2 linked regions of the Homo sapiens genome follow. The protein of the gene in region 1 purifies or fractionates together with the protein of each later gene. This does not show direct contact. Each region holds a gene or a part of one and is shown on either strand. Other genes may lie near its edges. The genes, in order: TMEM41B and SLC6A15.

Region 1 (10,062 bases):
TACAGTGTTGTTCCTGCCTTAATGGCTACAAAAGAAGGAGGTGCGACACCTGAAATAAAATATAAAAAGATACAGTAAAAACCACCGCAATTGTTTTTAAAAAATTAAAATGTTCTGTGTGCATAAAGTTTCTTAAAACAACACAGCTATTTCCATTTTGGAAAAAAAATTAAGAATTTAAAGCTCAAGTTTATTTCCATATAAAGAATTCAATCTTTCCTAATCACCTCTTAAGGATAATGATTTTTTTTTTTTTTGAGACGGAGTTTCGCTCTTGTTGCCCCCGCTGGAACACGATGGCGCGATCTTGGCTCACTGCAACCTCCGCCTCCCGGGTTCAAACAATTCTCCTGCCTCAGCCTCCCGAGTAGCTGGGATTACAGGCATGTGCCACCACACCCGGCTAATTTTGTATTTTCAGTAGAGATGGGGTTTCTCCATGTTGGTCAGAATGGTCTCAAACTCCCGACCTCAGATGATCCGCCCACCTCAGCCTCCCAAAGTGCTGGGATTACAGGCATGAGCCCCTGCACCTGGCCAGAATAATGAATTTTAAAAACGCAAGAAAAGGGCCCAGAAAATAGTTTTACATTTATCAAAAATGCTTTTGTTTTCTCCCCCCGAGAGTTTGACTCTATCGCACAGGCTTGAGTGCAGTGGTGCAATCATCACTCATTGCAGCCTCAGTCTCTCGAGGCTCAGGTGATTGTCCCACCTCAGCTTTCTGAGCAGCTGGGACTACAGGCGTGTACCACCACACCCAGGCAAAATTTTTGAATTTTTTGTCAAGAGAGGGGGTTTTGCCATATTGCCCAGGCTGGTCTCTGTAACTCCCAGGCTCAGGCAATTCACACGCCTCAGCCTCCCAAAGTGCTGGGATTACAAGTGTGAGCCACCACACCCAGACTATCAAAAACCTTAAAAGAAAAAAAAACAGGCCCGGCACAGTGGCTCATACGTGTAATCCCAGCACCCTGGGAGGCCAAGGCAGGCAGATCACCTGAGGTCAGGAGTTTGAGACCAGCCTGGCCAACATGATGAAGCTCCATCTCTACTAAAAATACAAAAATTAGCTGGGTGTGTTGGCGCACACCTGTAATCCCAGCTACTTGGGAGGCTGAGGCAAAAGAATCACTTGAACCCAGGAGGCGGAGGTTGCAATGAGCTGAGATCACGCCACTGCACTCCAGCCTGGGCGACAGAGAGAGAATCTGTCTCAAAAAGAGAAAAAAAAAGAAAGAAACGTGCTCTGTTCTAGCAATTTCAAGGTCAAGATACTCAAAGTGTGAGTAAAGAGAGCAGTGTATACAAAAGTACATAGAGAATGATGACATTTCACTAAAAATCAAAACAAAGGGAAATAAATTACTTTGGCCAAAGCTGAAATTAACTAAATCTCTGGCTTTCACCTATAAAATGGAGATAGAAACAAAAATTCTCTCTTTAGATTCCATGGATATGACATTTAACAAAATTAAAAATTCCCCATGCTGATGTAAGTTTGTCCATTTTTTTTTCTTTTCTTTTCATTCTTTCCTTCTTTCTTTTTTTTTTTTTTTTGAGACAGTGTCTTGCTGTCGCCCAGGCCGGAGTGCAGTGGCACAATCTCGGTTCACTGCAACCTCTGCCTCCTGGGTTCAAGTGATTCTCCTGCCTCAGCCTCCTGAGTAGCTGAGACTACAGGCACCTGCCACCACATTCAGCTAATTTTTGAATTTTTAGTAGAGACAGGGTTTTACCATATTGGCCAGGCTGGTCTCGAACTCTTGACCTTGTGATCCACCCGCCTTGGCCTACCAAAGTGCTGGGATTATAGGCGTGAACCACCGCGCCCGGCTAATTTTTTTTTAAAGTAGCAATAAATAATTGATTTTGGTTATTCTTTTCAAAAAGACATATTCTCACAAGTATTAACTTAAGCTTTAATAGGTATTCAATATGTAAGAAATCTGCTCGTATTTTTGACTTCTAAACAATTCAACTCGAACTGGAAAGAAGAGCAAAACATTCCTACAAAGAATCATGAGAATTCACAAAATATGTAAGTAATTTTCATGTCCACTGATTAATTTCAAAATCAAGTATTATTTCCTTAAAAGCAAGAAAGTTTGTTGATCCTTGCTTTTTCCATACTTTTGATAACATCCGCGATAAAAGCTGGTTTCAGTAAAAGGAAAAATAGGATCAATTCTCTACTGAAAATTCAAGTTCAACATTTTAATACTTGATTAGAAAACAAAGGAGCTATTTTGCCAAAGCAACATTTACAAAAAAAAAAAAAAAAAGAAAGGGCTGGGTGCGGTGGCTCACGCCTATAATCCCAGCACTTTGGGAGGCTGAGGTAGGTGGACCATGAGGACAGGAATTCGAGACCAGCCTGGCCAACATGGTGAAACCCCATTTCTACTAATAATACAAAAATTAGCCAGACGTGGTGGCGTGTGCCTGCAGTACCAGCTCCTTGGGAGGCTGAGGCAGGAGAATCGCTTGAACCCGGGAGGCGGAGATTGCAGTGAGCCGAGATCATGCCACTGTACTCCAGCCTGGGCGACAGATCGAGACTCAGGGAAGAGGAAGGGGAAGGGACATAGGAGAAAATTGCTCAAAAAAGGCAATTTGATTTTTTTTCCTCTCCACTTAGAGGGACTGGAAGTCCTGCTTAACCCTATATCATTAAAACGATATACAGTAGAAAGTGTTCTTCTTTAAAGAGGCGACACAAAAATAACCTAAATCAACACAATTCAACAAACACTTCTGAGCATCTATTTATACAGCCAGGCTTTGTGCCCAAGAATTCTAGATGGTGCTGGCATAATCTGCAGAGAGCATGCATGTAATCTAGCCCAGCTGGACACTGTTAGATATGTACACAGTGAGCTCATACACAGCAAGAACCAGAGGGCTTACCTAGAAAAGTACCAATAAAAAAAACTTTCAATGGCACGTTTATCACAGGAGATGTGATATTAATAAACCAATTAGGCAGAAATGGTGTTATTCTCAAAAATATAATGTAGTTAATGAGATGTTCTCTATGACGTTCAACCTGTCATAAGAAAGAAAAGAATTAGCATCAGATGAGGACAACTTCAAAATAAGTTGCTTAATATAAACACCTTATTTCAAATTCTCATTCCTGATACTTCAGAGTATACCCAATAGAAATGATCAGGCTGGCGAGGTGGTTCATGCCTGTAATCCCAGCACTTTGGGAGGCTGAGGCAGGCGGATCACCTGAGGTCAGGAGTTCGAGAACAGCCTGGCTAACATGGTGAAACCCGTTTCTACTAAAAATACAAAAAATTAGCCGGGCATGGTGGCATGTGCCTGAAATCCTAGCTACTTGGGAGGCTGAGGCAGGAGAATCGCTTGAACCCGGGAGGCAGAGGTTGCAATGAGCCAAGATCACGCCACTGCACTTCAGCTTGGGCAACAAGAGCGAAACTCTGACTCAAAAAAGAAAAGAAATCATCAAAAAAGGCCAGTGGTGACTCATGCCTATAATCCCAGCACTTTGGGAGGTTGAGGCAGGTGGGTCACCTGAGGTCTGGAGTTCGAGACCAGCCTGGCCAACATGGTAAAACCCTGTCTCTACTAAAAATACAAAAAATTAGCCAGGCGTGGTGGCATGTACCTATAATCCCAGCTACTTGGGAGGCTGAGGCAGGCAGGAGAAATGCTTGAACCGAGGAGGCAGAGGTTGCAGTGAGCCGAGGTCATGCCACTGCACTCCAGCCTGGGTGACAGAGTAAGACTCCGTCTCAAAAAAAGAAAAGAAAAAAATGCACTGGGAGTTGGCTGATACAAGTGTTTCCATAACAGATGCACACAATACTGCATTAACATAAAACAGATAGGTATCTAATTATGTGGATGCCTTTATATTCACACTGACTTCTCTGCTGATTAAATTTACTAAGATAAAGAATTAAAATTACCATCACAGGTCTGAAACATTTGTATTTGAAATTATTAACATTCATATTTGCCTACCACCCATTTTTATTTGGTCAGAAGATAATTCTTATTACTTGAGTTAACTTAGGAATTAATTTATGTTGGGTTAATACATGTAGTTAATTCATGTAGGGACTAAACACAGACCTTCCAATTAACAAAGAGTTACATCAAATAATTTAAAAATACATGTTTACCTGCTGTGACCATTTTACTGCTTTCTCTGTTAGGTATTTGTATACAACTGGTCTCCCAACTAAATAGGAAAGCATATAACAGAAAGAGGCACCAAGTCCAGAACACTGGAAAACAAAAGAAGCCATAAGCGTTTTGTATTTTTCCGTCTTACTCACATTGATTTATTCACCTGAGTAAAAAGCTCAATTAATTTACTTCTTTCAGAGGTGGGGAGGGTACTCTGCATGACATCTCTTGTGCAGAGATGATCTAGTACTTTCTCAGACCAAAATGTACCTCAAATGAGATCAGCTAAAACAAACTGGCACTTGTGATTACACCTAGTGACTATATCCAAATAATTAATGCTAGGCTTTAGCCTAAGAATAAAATTTCAGGAGCCAATTTCCACCTCCCCCCGACCCTACCCCCGACCCCCCCAGTTCCTAAGCTTGAAAACACCACCTCTGGCTCTGGGACTTAACTCATTGTGCTCACCAACACTCCTTGGACTGTCGCAGTTACAAAATCCAATAGGAAAGAAAAGCTAAAACATAGCTTATAAATGCAACTAAGTCTATAATTGGTCTGTTCTGGGGGAAAAACAAATTATAACACCTCCTTGTGGAGGGACTTTAACATTAACTCCTCTTCAATTAATGAGTTTATGCTTACATAGACTAGTAGGGTTAAAGTATCATCATCATCCTCATCATTCTATTGTTTTTTCAGTCTCCCAATTTTATTTTTTCATACTTACCAAACAAACAAGAAATAAGGCTAGTGGAAAGGGATAAAGAAACCCTGAGAGTATACTGAGAAATATAGAGCCTGGAATAGCAAATGTTTGCAAGCTGGTAACTTTTAAGTTAAGGATTAGAATATAATTAAGTAGAATTTTAAAAGACAAATGTAACATTTCAGGAAAAAAGTATAAATACAAAAATTATCATACAATGAGATTATATCCAAAGGTCTAGCCTCTAAGTTGACCATTTACTAAACAGTATCATAAATACTAGTAAGTGTGTGCTACTAAAAGGTTTCCAAGACAAAAAACCGTATGTTCTAGATAGAGAGGAACCGGGCACTTTGGGGGAGGAACAAAAGAAAAAAGAAAAGGTCTTCCGTAATCTTTTAGTGCTTCTCTAATACATTTTATTTTACTCCCAAATGTTTTCAGGGAAATCATGTACATACAATTATTTCTAATTTAACTATGAAGGTTTACCTAAATTCACTACTCATTTTAAAGGAATAGGAACTACAAGAGAATAAAAGAAAATAAGAAAAATAAGAATAGAAATTACAAAATATAGTAAAAGTCACAAATCTTATTTGAGAAGGGGTCTTGCTTTGTCACCCAGGCTGGAACGCAGTGGCGCACTCATGGCTCACTGCAGCCTCAAATGCCCAAGCTCAAGCAATTCTCCCACTTCAGCCTTGCAAGTAGTTGGGATCACGGACGTGTGTCACCACACCAATTTTTATTATTTGTAGAGATGAGGTCTGGCTGAGTTGCCCAGGCTAGTCTTGAACTCCTGGGCTCAAACGATCCTCCCACAATGGACTCCCAAAGTGTTGAGGTTACAGATATGAGCGACTACACCCGGGCCACAAATCTTGTTTTTAAAATAGATTTTTTTTTTTTTTTACTTTCCTGTCGTTCCCAGTTTGGATCTGAACCTTTTTCCCCTCTAATATGATTTACTCACAAGTCAAAGTGAATTCCCTCAACATCTCTCCATCTATCCTCACTCATTAACTATTCCTTTTTCTCTAGTTCCCATTTTACTCATGTTCTCATTTCAATCTCCTCCTCCTTCCTCCTGGGTTTTTTCACCTTCAACTCTGTTCTCTTTCACAGGATGCCTCCTCTACAAAACTACTCAGTTGTCTATAACTTAAAAAACAACCTCAACCAGGGTATCCTATCCAGCTACCGCTCATCTTCACTTCCTCAGAGGAGATTCTCTCCTCGTTCCCTGTGACCTGCTTTACTATTCCACTATGCTATTGAAACTTCCTCACAGCCAATAATAACTTTTTCTCAATAGTCACCTTTCAGTGATCCCTGCATAGGATTAGACTTCATCCTGCATGAAACATGGCTTCAGTGAACTGTACTTTTTCTTCTACATTACAGGTAATTTCTTCTCTAGATTTTTCTCTTTGCCCTCAACTCTTGAAATTTCTCTAACATTCTGTTGGCCACACAATCCCTTTTCTTTGATAAATTTGGCAATTTCCATGGCTTCAAGTATCAACCACATATAGTACTAAAAACTCGAAATTCTCTTTGGTTCATCAGCCTCAAATTTTCCACCTGTCTCCTACATGTCTCTGTCAAAAACAAAACACACACACACACACACACACAAACACACACACTTTTTGGGTTAAGATTGTACTATATGGACCGGGTGGGGTGGCTCATGCCTGTAATCCCAGCACTTAGGGAGTCTGAGGCAGGCGGATCACAAAGTCAGGAGATCGAGACCATCCTGGCCAACATGGTGAAACCGTCTCTACTAAAATACAAAAAACTAGCCGGGCGTGGTGGTGGGCACCTGTAGTCCCAGCTACTCGGGAAGCCAAGGCAGGGGAATCGCTTGAACCCAGGAAGCAGGAGATTGCAGTGAGCCGAGATCTCGCCACTGCAAGCCAGCCTGGCAACAGAGCAAGACTCCATCTCAAAAACAAAACAAAACAAAACATCATATTATGGATAGTTTCACACATATGTAAATGTAGAAATACTCAATGTAAATGACAAGTTGATGGGTACAGCAAACCAACGTGGCACACATATACGTATGTAACAAACCTGCACGCTGTGCACATGTACCCCAGAACTTAAAGTATAATAATAAAAAAAAAAAAGAAAGAAAAGAAAGCAAGACTCCAAAGGATGAAAGGAGATAAATGGAAATTTTCCCTTGAGGAAATTGAGAGAAGCAGAAATAAATGAGGACAAGTTCCCAGGAAGTGTTTTGTTGTTTTTGTTGTTTAACGCAACTGTATTTTTTCCTTTCCCAAAATTTGGTGCAATTCCTACTTCTCTGAAAAGGAAACCTAAAATTACAGCTGAAATTGGGGAAAAAAAAACAAAGTAGAGAAACTAGTGTTATGATGCCCTATATTAACATATTTCAGGCTGGGCACCGTGGCTCCCGCCTGTAATCCCAATACTTTAGGCAGCTGAGGGTGGATCACTTGAGACTAGGAGTTGAAGAACAGCCTGGCCAACACGATGAAACCCTGTCTTTAATAAAAATACAAAAATTGGCCAGTCACAGTGGCTCATGCCTGTAATGCCAGGTACTCAGGAGGCTGGGAAACGAGAATCTCTTGAACCCAGAGGGCAGACGTTGTAGTGAGCCGAGATCATGCCACTGACCTCTGGCCTGGGAAATAGAGTGAGACTCTGTCTCAAAAAAAATAAAAATAAAAATAAGGCTGGGCGCGGTGGCTCATACCTGTAAATCCCAACACTTTGGGAGGCCAAGGCAGGTGGATCATGAGGTCAGGAGTTCAAAGAATACAAAAAATTAGCCGGGCGCAGTGGCAGGTGCCTGTAATCTCAGCTACTTGGCAAGCTGAAGCAGGAGAATTGCTTGAACTCGGGCAGCGGAGGTTGCAGTGGGCCGAGATCGCGTCGCTACACTCCAGCCTGGGAAACAGAGTGAGACTCCCATCTCAAAAAAATTATAATAATAATAAAAATAAATTTTTTTTTGAGACTGAGTCTCGCTCTGTCGCCAGGCTGGAGTGCAGTGGCATGATCTTGGCTCACTGCAACCCCTGCCTCCCAGGTTCAAGCGATTCTCCTGCCTCAGCCTCCCGAGTAGCTTGGATTACAAGCGTGTGCCATCGCGCCCAGCTAATTTTTTTTATTTTTAGTACAGACAGGTTTCACCATGTTGGCCAGGATAGTCTCCATCTCCCGATCTCGTGATCCACCCCGCTTGGCCTCCCAAAGTGCTGGGATTACAGGTGTGGCCACCACGCCCGGCCAATTCCTTTTTTTTTCCTTTCGTTTTTGTGGTAGGAGTCTCGCTCTGTCGTCCAGGCTGGAGGGCAGTGGCGTGATCTCAGCTCACTGCATTCTCCGCATCCCAGGTTCAAGCAATTCTCTGCCTCAGCCTCCCAAGTAGTTGGAATCACAGACGCCTGCCACCATAACTGGCTAATTTTTGTATTTTTAGTAGAGACAGGGTTTCACCATCTTGGTCAGGTTGGTCTTGAACTCCAGACCTCGTGATCCACCTGCCTCGGCCTCCCAAAGTACTGGAATTATAGGTGTTAGCCACCGTGCCTGGCCTCCTTTTCTTTTTAACATAAATATGATACCATTGTCAGACTTCAAGAAATTAACTATAATTCCTTATTGTCCTAAAGACTAGTCTGATCAGAATCTAGAAGTCCACACAAAGTATTTGCTCAAAGGATCACTTAAGCATAGGGTCTTTATTTTTTCTTTCTTTCAATTTACTGAAGAAACCAGATCATTTGTAGAATTTACCATTTATTGAATTTTGCCTATTGGATACTTAGGGTAGTTTATGTTCTATCCTTTATCTTATACTAGTAGTCAAAACTATGCTTCCTTTTAAATGGGAATGTGACTTGAGCTTAACTTTGTTTAGATTTCTCTTCTCTTACACTGAAAAATCTTGGTTCTTGATAACACCAACATAGTTGCCTATTTGTGCTTTATATACTATGAAACATAAAGTAAATGTATAAAATATATACTATGCATTAGTATTAATAATCTAAAACGTTTCCACATATTTAAATATTTTACAACATTATTACTACTAACAATATGATGACTAAAAACAGTTTTAAGATTTTTGGCTAGGCCTGGTGACTCACACCTGTAATCCCAGCACCTTGGGAGGCTGAGGTGGGAGGATCACTTGAGCCCAAGAGTTCCAGTTCGAGACCAGCCTGGGCAACATGATGAAATCCCATCGCTACAAAAAAATACATGAAGAGACGGGATTTCTTCATGTTGGTCAGGCTGGTCTTGAACTCCCAAACTCAGGTGATCAGCCTGCCTCGGTCTCCCAAAGTGCTGGGATTATAGGTGTGAGCCACCACACCCGGCCCTGATAATACTATTCTTAATTTTTGAGGAACTGCCATACTATTTTCCATAGTAGCTGCATCATTTTGCATTCCCACCAACAGTGCTCAAGAGTTCCAATTTCTCCACATCCTTGCCAACACTTGTTATTTTCATGATAGCCATCCTAATGAGTGTGAGGTTGCTTTTGATTCTTAAGATTCCTGCTATTCTCTTTTTTCATTTTGATTTTGTAATTATGTAAAACATTTACTTGGTTCTCAAGTCAAACCTACGCTAAGAAAAGTTTCAGTCCTACCATTTTATCTCTCTCCCTACAGGTAAACATTTTTACTGGTTTATTTATTTGAGATACAGTCTCACTGTCACCTAGGCTGGAGTGCAGAGGCTAAATGCTTCGCTGTAGCCTCAACTTCCCTGGGCTCAGGTGATCTTCCCACCTCAGCCTCCCAAGTAGCTAGGACTACAGGCATGTACCAAGACATCCAGCTAATTTTTGTATTTCTCGTAGAAACTGGGTCTAGCTACATTGCCCAAGCCAGTCTCGAACCACTGGCCTCACGCAATCCTCCTGCTGAAGCCTCCCAAAGTGCTGGGATTACAGGAATGAGCCACTACACCCGGCCAATTAGTTTTTTAAGAAAAATATAACAAGATACTTATGTATATGAGTGTACTCATATTATCCCCTTCTTAGATAAAACACAGCATATTTGTGTACTATTTTGCCCTTTGTTCTTTCACTTATCTGTATATTGTGAGTTAATACCTCAACAACATATGGATACTTCTGATTCTTTTTATTTTTGTTATTTTTATTTTTTGGGGAT
Region 2 (10,062 bases), on another chromosome or scaffold:
GCGCTCTCCAGCGTCCCGCTTTCCCTTTCCATCCTCCTCCCTAGCTGGGAAAGGCTGGAGTAAGACGGGGCGGGGTCCGGACTCCGGCGCAGTGACGTAAGCAGTGTTTGGGTGCTTATGCAAATAAGTCTGCGACGGTTTCTTCTGGTCTTGCCGTTTTCCCCTCCAGATCTTATAGGTAGACCCAATCTTAGTCTGCACCATCCTTGCGGTTCACTACTTAAGACGTATGGGAGAAATGAAGGATTTGCTTTATATGCTGCTTTGGGGCTCCTCATCGCCCATGCTGTAAAAGCTATTTTCTACCTGTCAATGCCTGATTGCTTTTCTGCTGTGCCAGCAACAAAGTGTTTGTTTTGAGGAATTATTATGTGCAGACACAGCCCCAACAAGCCCCTCACCCACCCAACCTCATTTCTGCAAGATCATTGCTGAAACACAGACCTATTTATGTCTTAGGCGCCCAGTACTGGGCTTGACTTGTACGTTCTTAATAAATACTTAATGATGGACTAAATCTTCTTTGAACAGTGTTAGGTTTTGAAGGGAAGGCGAGGGTTAAAGACACACACACACACACACACACACACGGAAAGAGGGCGGCTCAACAGCAAATTCAGGCTTTCTGTCCAGCATAAATCCTACAGAAGTGGAGGACCAGCCTAATGCCGGAGCCCGCTGCCGCTTACAGGCTGGGGCCATTTATAGGTACGGGCAGAAGGGGTCTGAGCAGTATGGCTTGCTGCTCCGCGGGATATTAATAAGATGCTTCCATGAAGAGGCGGTTCTGGCTCTTGTTCCGGCGCGATGTCGTTCTGTTGTTCAGGGTGTTCCTTGGACCTTTGTCCAGCAAGATATGATAGGGATGTCTCTTTAGTTAGGCCTTTGTCCAACTCGTGGTCAGTTGGTTAGACGGGATGTTTCTCACAGCTCGAACCCCTGTGAAATGTTTCGCTTTCACCAAGGTCTGCAAAATAGCAGGGAGCTTACAACATGGTGCAGTTTGGACTAACAAACAGTATGTATTTTTTTCTCTCATATTAAATTCAAGATATTTGACCATCAAAATCAGGCGATTTTATTTTTATGTGTTGTTGCCTTTTCTATGGAATCATCAATGATCCATGTGTATTTGTTGTGGTAAAACATATCCCAACAAATTTAAAATGGAATTTATTAACCATTTTTCTCTAAATAAAGCTTTCAGTTTGTGTTTTTTTTTAGGATGACAGGAATTAATAGGATTTTTAAAGAAAGATAATCTTTTACTGTTGATAAGCTTTTCTTTTTTCTGATTGCACATTATATAGTTGATTGAAAAATTATTTTATAATTCTAATATAGTTAACTCGAGATGTAGTATTTTAATCGAATTAAGAAAGTTATTTTTATATGTTTCTAGGAGATCAGTACTCTATCACTGAATAAATATGAAATAATGCAGAATCTTAAAACTGGATAACAGTTATGAGAGATGCCAATAATCAGATGAGATGCCTTCCTTGTCACCTACTGAAACATTTAAAATAAGTCAGAATAGTTACTAAACTCTAAAGTCCGTATTCATAGTTACTACCTTACCCAGTGATCATAGTTGAAATTGTAAATATGCTTCTCTTGTCATAAAATATAATTTGTATATGAATAGGTAAGATATTTGCATTCTTTTTAACTCTGGGATTATATCATCTAGGAAATTGAATCATTGACTTAGAATAGCAGACCCAAAAGAGAGCTTGGTGGCTATCAAAAGCTCCTAAAAACTTTTCTTTCACTTCTCAATGGACCTCTCACCTTGTGGAAGAGTATGTTAATTCTTTATTACTACATACATATGCATGATAGGATATATTAGTATATTCTTATGCAGCTGTGCAGAGTAGATTTTGAAATGGTTTCTCAGCAGATAGTATTAATAAAAATCTACAGGCATAGTTGGATGCATGAACAACATTCAAGGTTACATAGCAGGAATCATTAGATTTATTTCTACTTTGCTTATCATACCACTCTTCTGGCTGTCTTTACTAAACAATTTTTGATGTATTTATCTGCTTAAATATTAACTTTGACCAGTAATGATCATCTCTTTTTCTGTGAACAACAAGCCCTAAAAATAAACTGGGATATAGGGCAATTTCAAATGCAGAGTATCACTTGACACAGGGCAGAGCTGTAAGTTGTGTTCAGCCTTGAAGGTCACTTTATTTCCTTGTGATTAATGTGCTAAGGTATCTTTTCACATAAGATGAATTGACTTTTATTTTTAAATAGAATGCATACTTTGGGAACTTTTTCACCTATCAGATTGGCAAAGATCAAAGAGATTATTTGTTATACAGAAGACAGTAGAAGAAAGCGGGCACTCTCATGCATTGCTGGTGGTAGTGCAAATGGACACAATTTTTATCAAGGGCTATTTGGTAATATTTATCAAAATTATAAAAGCTCATACCTTTTGATCAAGCTGTTCCAGTTCTAGGAATTTATTCTACAGATATGGAGATGCAAGATATACAAAATAATTTGTTGGAACATTGTAGTAGCAAATTATCAGTGATGATCTAAATATATGGTATACCATACCAAGGAATATCATACAGTAGTTTTTTAAATGAAGCTATTACATTGAGATCAAGAGTTTTGAAGAATTTATTAGAGTGAAAAACTAAGAGGTAGAATTATGCACATAGTAATAGTTGTGTAAAAAGAAGCAGATTGGGGGCTGGTGGGGAGAAAACACATATTAGCTTGAATATATATAGAGTGTTTAAGTGTGTATACACACATATATATATGCTTGAATATACAGAAAATATTTATTGAAGATTTTGGTTACTTATTGGGAGGTACAGATGGTACAGTATATTCTAGGGAGAAAGGGTAGGAAGATATATATATATATATATATATATATGTTTCTTTACTCTTTGCCCTTTAATATCTTATTACAGTATTTTGTATTCAAAATATAAATATATAAAATATTTTAAAGTAAAGACAGAGGCAAATAAACACCTTTGGTAGAGTTTTATTCATTCATCACATGCCATGGAATTAGTAAGGTACAAAAGTCAATGAGTATTTTGACGACCCCCTGATTTTTGTTGTTGTTTCTGAATTTACAAGAAAGCTTCCTCTTTCAAGAGTTTTAGAAATAAAATTATATTGGAGAAGCATATTTAGTACTTGATTCAATAAAGTTATTTAATTATACTAGCAAAAAAGGCATAATTTTAGGGTATTAAAAAAAGTCTTAATTTTGAGATGGGTGTTGAGTCCCATGTAGTTGGTAAGAAATAACACAGAGAGTTCTTGTGAGCTCTTGACAAATTTCCTGCAAATATAACATTTTGTAATAACTATATTAAACCTTCCTAATCAGAATATTGACATTGATACAGTTAAGTTACAAAAGAGTTCCATTACATAAGGATTAACTGTGTTGGCCTTTTATAACCACAACCACTTCACTCCAGTCCCCAGGCTCTCCTTAACTCCTGGCAATCTCTACTCTGTTCTCCATATTTATTTTTTGGTCATTGCAAGAATATTATATAAATGTAATCATACAGTATTCAATGTATTTGAATTGATGTTTTTTCACTCAGCATAATTTTCTGTAGATTCATCTAAGTCATGTATATTGGTAGTTTTTGCTAAATAGTAGTTAATGGTATGGATGTGCCAGAATTTATAACTATTTACCCATTGAATGACATCTGGATTATTTCTAGTTTAGGGTTAATGTAAATAAAACTGCTATGGACATTCCTGCATAGGCTTTTCTGGAACATAAATTTTCATTTATCTGGGATAAATGAGAACACTTGCTCGGTTATGTGGTAGCAGTGTGTTTAGTTTTTAAATGAACAGTCGAACTTTTCCAGAGTGTTTGTACAATTTTACATTCTCACCAGTAATGAATAAATGATCCATTTTCTCTGCATCCTTGCCAGAATTTGGTTGTCACTATATTTTGGCCATTCTGATAGGAATATAGCAACATCTCATAGTATTTTATATTTGCATTTACCTAATGGCTAATAATATCGAGCCTCAGTTCTTGTGCTTCTTTGTCATTCATATATAATATTCATTGAAATATCTCTACCTGTTTTCTTATTTTATTTATAATGGTCGAGTTTTTTTTTGTTTTTTGTTTTTTTTCGAGACGGAGTCTCCCTCTGTGGCCCAGGCTGGAGTTCAGTGGCGCGATCTCAGCTCACTGCAAGCTCTGCCTCCCTGGTTCACACCATTCTCCTGCCTCAGCCTCCCAAGTAGCTTGGACTACAGGTACCCGCCACCACGCCCGGCTAATTTTTGTATTTTTAGTATAGACAGGGTTTCACCGTGTTAGCCAGGATGGTCTCAATCTCCTGACCTCATGATCCACCCGTCTGGGCCTCCCAAAGTGCTGGGATTACAGGCGTGAGCCACCGCGCCTGGCAACGGTCGAGTTTTAAGAGTTCTTTATATATCCTAAACACCAGTCATTTGTGACCTTCAAATATATTCTCCCATTTTTAAGCTTTTTTTTTTCCATCCTCTTAATAGATTCTTTCTCATAGCAAAAGTTTCAAATTTTGGGGCCTAGTTTATCAATTTTTGTGTTTCTGAATCCTGCTTTTGTCATGTCTAAGAGCTCTTTGGTTAACCCTAGATCTCAAAGATTTAATCTGATGACTTGTTTCTTAAAGTTTTATATTTTCCACTTAAGTTTGTAATTCATTTTGAATTAATTTTTGTATAAGATATGAGATTTAGGTTCAGGGTTATACTTTTGCCTAGGGATGTCCAATTATTTCCCGAACAATTTGTTGAAAGAGCTATTTTTTTCTCCATTGAAATTGCTTTGGTACTTTTATCAAAAATTAGTTAGGCATATTGTGTGCACTTCTTTCTGGGTAGCCTCTTCTGTTACATTCATTTTTGTCTATCCTTTCACCAACCTCACATAGACTTCATTACTGTAGCTATATAATAAGTCACAAAATTCGATAGAATCATTCCTCCCACTTCATTCTTCTGTTTAAAATTGTTGTAGCTCCTCTAATTTTTTGCCTGTTCATATAAATTTTGAAATAATCTTCTTTGTAGAAAAATGTCACTGATATTTTGATAGGAATTCATTTAACCATATATCAATTTAGGGAAATTTGACATCTTTCTTATGTTGAGTTTTCTAATCCATGAACATGGCATGTCTTCCCATACATTTAGATCTTCTTTCATTTACTTTATCAGCACTTTGTAGTTTTCAGCAAAAATGTACCATCCAGGTTTTGTTACATTTTCGTGTAATTATGTCAGTTTAATGATTGTAAATGCTATTGCATTTTTAATTTCTGTGTTCACTTGTTTATTGGTAACATATGGAACTGTAAATGATTTGTGTATGTTTACCGTGTATTCTGTGACTTTTTTGGACTATTACTCTAGAAGGTATTTTTGTAGATTCATTAGAATTTATAATATAGACAATCAAAATATCTGCAAAAAAATTGAATACTGTATTATTACATTCATATAACATTCTTGAAATGACCAAAAAATAAGTATGGAGAACAGATTAGAGGTTGCCAGGAGTTAAGGAGAGCCTGGGGACTGGAGCACAGTGGTTGTAGTTAAAAAAGGCCAACACAGGGAATCCTTATGTGATGGAAATCTTTTGTAACTTGGCTGTTCTTCTTTCTTGATTTATGTGACTTATACATAAATTTGTAACTTGACTTTTCTTGTTTCTTGATTTATGTGACTTATACAGTTAGGCTTCTGTGTCCTTAGGTTGTGCATCCACAGATTCAACCAAATGCAGATGTGAATATAGTACTTGTGGGATGCAGGACCCACAGATGAATGTGGGACTTGAGCATCTGAGAATTTTGGTATTTGTGGGAGGTCCTTCAACAATGTCCCTTGGACACTAAGGGCTGACTGTATTTTCTTTTTCTTGCCTTATGCCACTACTTAGAACTTCCAATACTATGTTGAATAAGAGTGTGAGAGTGGACGTTTTTATCTTGCTTCTTATCCTGAAGGAAAAGCATTTAGTCTTTCACCAGTAAATATAATATCAACTGTAAATTTTTTGTAGATGCTGTTGATCAAGTTGAGAAAGTTTCCTTCTGTTCCTAATTTTTGACATTTTTGATCATAAATGGACATTGAATTTTGTCTTTCCTGCATCAGTAGATATAGTCATGTGATTTTTCCTTTAGCCTGTCATTATTGTATATCACATATTGATTTTTGAATATTGAACCAACCTTGAATACTTAGAATAAACCCTACTTGATCATGGAATATAATTCTTTTTATACATCACTGAATTCTGTTTTCTAACACTGTGTAAAGGAATTTTGTGTCTATATTCATTAGGAATATTGATCTGTAGTTTTTTATTTTTTACTATGATCTTTGCCTGGTTTTGGTACCTGAGTAATACTGCTTTCATAAAATGAAATACAAATTATTCTATCATCTTCTATTGCCTGAAGAGATTGTGTAGAATTGATGTTAATTCTTCTTTAAATGTTTGGTGGAATTTTCCAGTGAGATTTCTTTTGTGACAGTTTTAAAATTATGCATTCAACTTATTTATTAGTTATATAGCTATTAAATGTTCTATTTCTTATTGGCTAAGTTGTGGTAGTTTGTGTTTTTTAAGGAACTGATTGGTTACACCTCAGTTACTAAATTTATGTGTGTAGAGTTTTTGTTAGTATTCTCTCATGGTCATTTTGATGTCTGCAGATTTTGCAATGATAATTCCTGTTTCACTTACGATATCCAAGATGCCTTAAGCATGAAATTGACTTTATGCAGCTTTACATATGATTGACTAAATGTGGCTTTGAAAGTTAATACCTATTTCTATTCTAATACCTATGAAATCACTGTGTGTATTTAAAAACCTAAACCACATATCCTCTACATAGATCTAGCCACATTGTGAACAGGTTATTGGACAATATTTTAAATTTCAGTACAGTTTGTATAATTTTAGTTAAATCCAATACATAAGTAATCTTATCCATAGACAAATGTTTCAGATATCTATTGCTACACAACAAACCATTCTACAACATAGTGTCTTAAAATAATGACTTTTTAAAATCATTCTTCTGTGGGGTGGTTGGGCTCATTTGGGTGGTTCATTTGCTCTAATTGGTGTGTTACCTGGCTGTTCAGCTAGGGCTGGAATATCAATACCTTTGTTCTTATGCCTGGAGCTTCACTTCAGATGATGGTTGCTTGAGACTATTTCTCTCTCTCTCTCTCTCTCTCTCTCCCCCTCCGCCCCTCCCCCCTTTCTCTCCCTTTCTCTCCCTCTTTCCATGTGGGGTTTCTAGCAGGAGAAGCAGACGTTTTACATGGTGCCTAGCTTCCAAAAGAGGGAAAGCAGAAACTGCCAAGCTTCTATAGCCTTGGAACTTGCATAGTTTCACTGCTGCTACCTTCTGGTCAAAGCAAACCAAAGTTAACCCAGATTTAAAAGAAGGGAAAACAGCCTACTACAACAAATAACTATAAAAGATCAAACAACATTGTATAAGGATGTATGAACAAATAAAACATATTCAGTGCCTTTAAATTAATATTTTTAGAAAACATAGTATAAATTAGTTTAAATAATAGTATATGCCTCCTAAAGATGTGTCCAGTTCCTACTTCCTGACATCTATAAATGTTACCTAATTTGGAAGAAAAGTCTTTGCAGATATAGTATTGAGATGAAGATATGATTTCGGAAGATCCAGATGGGCCCTACATGCCATGACAAGCATCCTTATAGGAAAGATGGAGAGGGATGTTAGACTGAAGTAGAAGGAAGTAGGCAATCTGACTACAGAAACAGAGAATGGAGTAATGAGGCCACAAATTGAGGAATGCCAGCAGCCACCAGAAACTGGAGAAGGCAAGGTTCATGTTCTCCCCTAGAGCCTCCCGAGAAAATACCACCCTGGTAACGCCTTGATTTTGGTTGACTGTAACTTAATTTGGATTCTTTGGTCTCCGGAAGTATGAAAGAATACATTTCTGTTGTTTTAAGACATTAAATTTGAAGTAATTTTTTTTATTCTCAATGTTTTTTAGGGCATATTAGTATATTTTATTTTATTTTTTGTTATACTTTAAGTTTTAGGGTACATGTGCACAATGTGCAGGTTTGTTACATATGTATACATGTGCCATGTTGGTGTGCTGCACCCATTAACTCGTCACTTACATGAGGTATACCTTACGTTAATAAAACTTTGTCTTAAAAACTTTTTGTCTACTTCAGAAATCTCTAAAAGAATTTTGAAAGATTGTCTATCTTTGATTCACAGAAGTCAACAAAAATATACTCCAATTTATGGAAATTGCTTTATGATTATAATTAATTTTGAAATAATTACGATTTCACAGAAGGGTGCACATGGAGGTGTATGCACCATTTACTCGACTTCCCCACCACTAACATCTTATGTCAGATACGGTACTATATAAAAACCAGCATATTGATGCTGGTATAATCCATAGTATGTCCACGTTTATAGCTCTGTGAAATTTTATAAAATGTATACCTTCTTCTATCCCTTACCACAATGAAGATAGTAACCTGTGTGCCTTACCATATGATTCTCTCCTGCTACTCTTTTATAAGCACACCCATTTACCCTCTCCATCCCTAACTCTTCAAACCATGAATATGTTGTTTATTTCTATAATTATGTTATTTCACAAATGTTATATAAAAATTGTTATATATGTATTTCTTTGAAATTGGCATTTTTATATTGTTTTCACTGAGTATCATTTCCTTTAGGTACATGCAAGTTGTTGCATGTATCAATAGTTCTTTTTTACTGCTGAGTAGTGGTTCATGGTGCGAATGTAGCACAGTTTAACCATTCACCCATTGAAACGCATACTGGATAGTTTCCATTTTTTTTCTATTATAAGTAAAGCTGCTATGGACATTTGTGTACAAGTTTTGTAAGTTTTTTTTTATTTTTCTGTGATATATCTCTGAAATATAGTTGCTGGTTACTATGAGAAGTCTTTATTAGTGTTAAAAGTAACCAAGTTGTTTTTCAGAGTGGCTGTACCATTTTACATTTCCACCAGCAACATGTGATTGATTTAGTTTCTACATGTCCTCACCAATATTTGGTGTTATTAATTTAAAAAACAAAGTTTAGCCATTCTGATAGGTGTGTTATTTGTAGCCCACCTTTTGGGAAAAAAAATATACATTTAATGAAGTATAAATAGTGACTTGGTATTGTTATTTGTAAAAAAAGTTCCCTTCCTTTTGATTGGCTCTGTAATTTTTTATTTGATAGCTCAGTGCAAAAATTTTATGTAAACCAGGATACAATTTGCAAAATACATTTCAATTTATTGAATTCTATATTGTTAAAAATATTTCATATTATTCATCAAGATTATTATTTCAGTATTTCATGAAATCTCTTGATGAAAATATTTTTCCTCTATAATTATACCATAACTATAAACTAATTGGCATACGGTGACAATTTTTCTTGAGCATTACAGTATGGTCCAAATTTTGATTTTATTTGGATGGTCTTTATTTTTGTCCTATATTAGAAAATAGAAAAATGAATTTCATTTGAATCTATAAATAATTAAACATTTCATATTCAAATTAGTTTGTATTTAAATAAAACTTTTTTTTCAGTGAAATTTTAAGTTGTCAAAGACAGGGAGATAATTTACTAGTGTTCTAGTGCTTTATTATAGAATACTAAGCTTGTGACAAATGCCAAAAATTAGCCAGTGCAGATATATATGTTTGAGTCATCCATCATATATGTCAGATGCAGACACCTACCTGCTACTTCAAGTGTTTGCATATTTTCACTGGAAATGTTAATTAAAATTTAATATAATTTCAAAAGAGATTGTAACAATGGCTTGGAAGGTAGAAAATTTTGAAGGATGGAACAAGAATGGCAGAAAGTATTGAGTTAATTTTTTAGTGAACATATTATAGCAAGACTGGTCAAGATAAAAACAAAGAAAAAGACCTATTACCAATATCAGTAA

Evidence for each region.
Region 2: the proteins of TMEM41B (region 1) and SLC6A15 purify together in Homo sapiens (affinity purification with mass spectrometry; 2 studies listed by BioGRID and IntAct, with this or other methods). This does not show direct contact.

Annotation. Positions count from the first base shown.
Region 1 is NC_000011.10:9,283,545-9,293,606, forward strand, and holds part of TMEM41B (transmembrane protein 41B), read right to left. Parts: intron 4,999-10,062; coding exon of another isoform or gene 4,992-4,998; coding exon 4,898-4,991; intron 4,263-4,897; coding exon 4,158-4,262; intron 3,050-4,157; coding exon 2,911-3,049; intron 50-2,910; coding exon 1-49. UniProt on the Homo sapiens protein: Phospholipid scramblase involved in lipid homeostasis and membrane dynamics processes. Has phospholipid scramblase activity toward cholesterol and phosphatidylserine, as well as phosphatidylethanolamine and phosphatidylcholine.
Region 2 is NC_000012.12:84,901,457-84,911,518, reverse strand, and holds part of SLC6A15 (sodium-dependent neutral amino acid transporter B(0)AT2), read left to right. Parts: intron 1-10,062.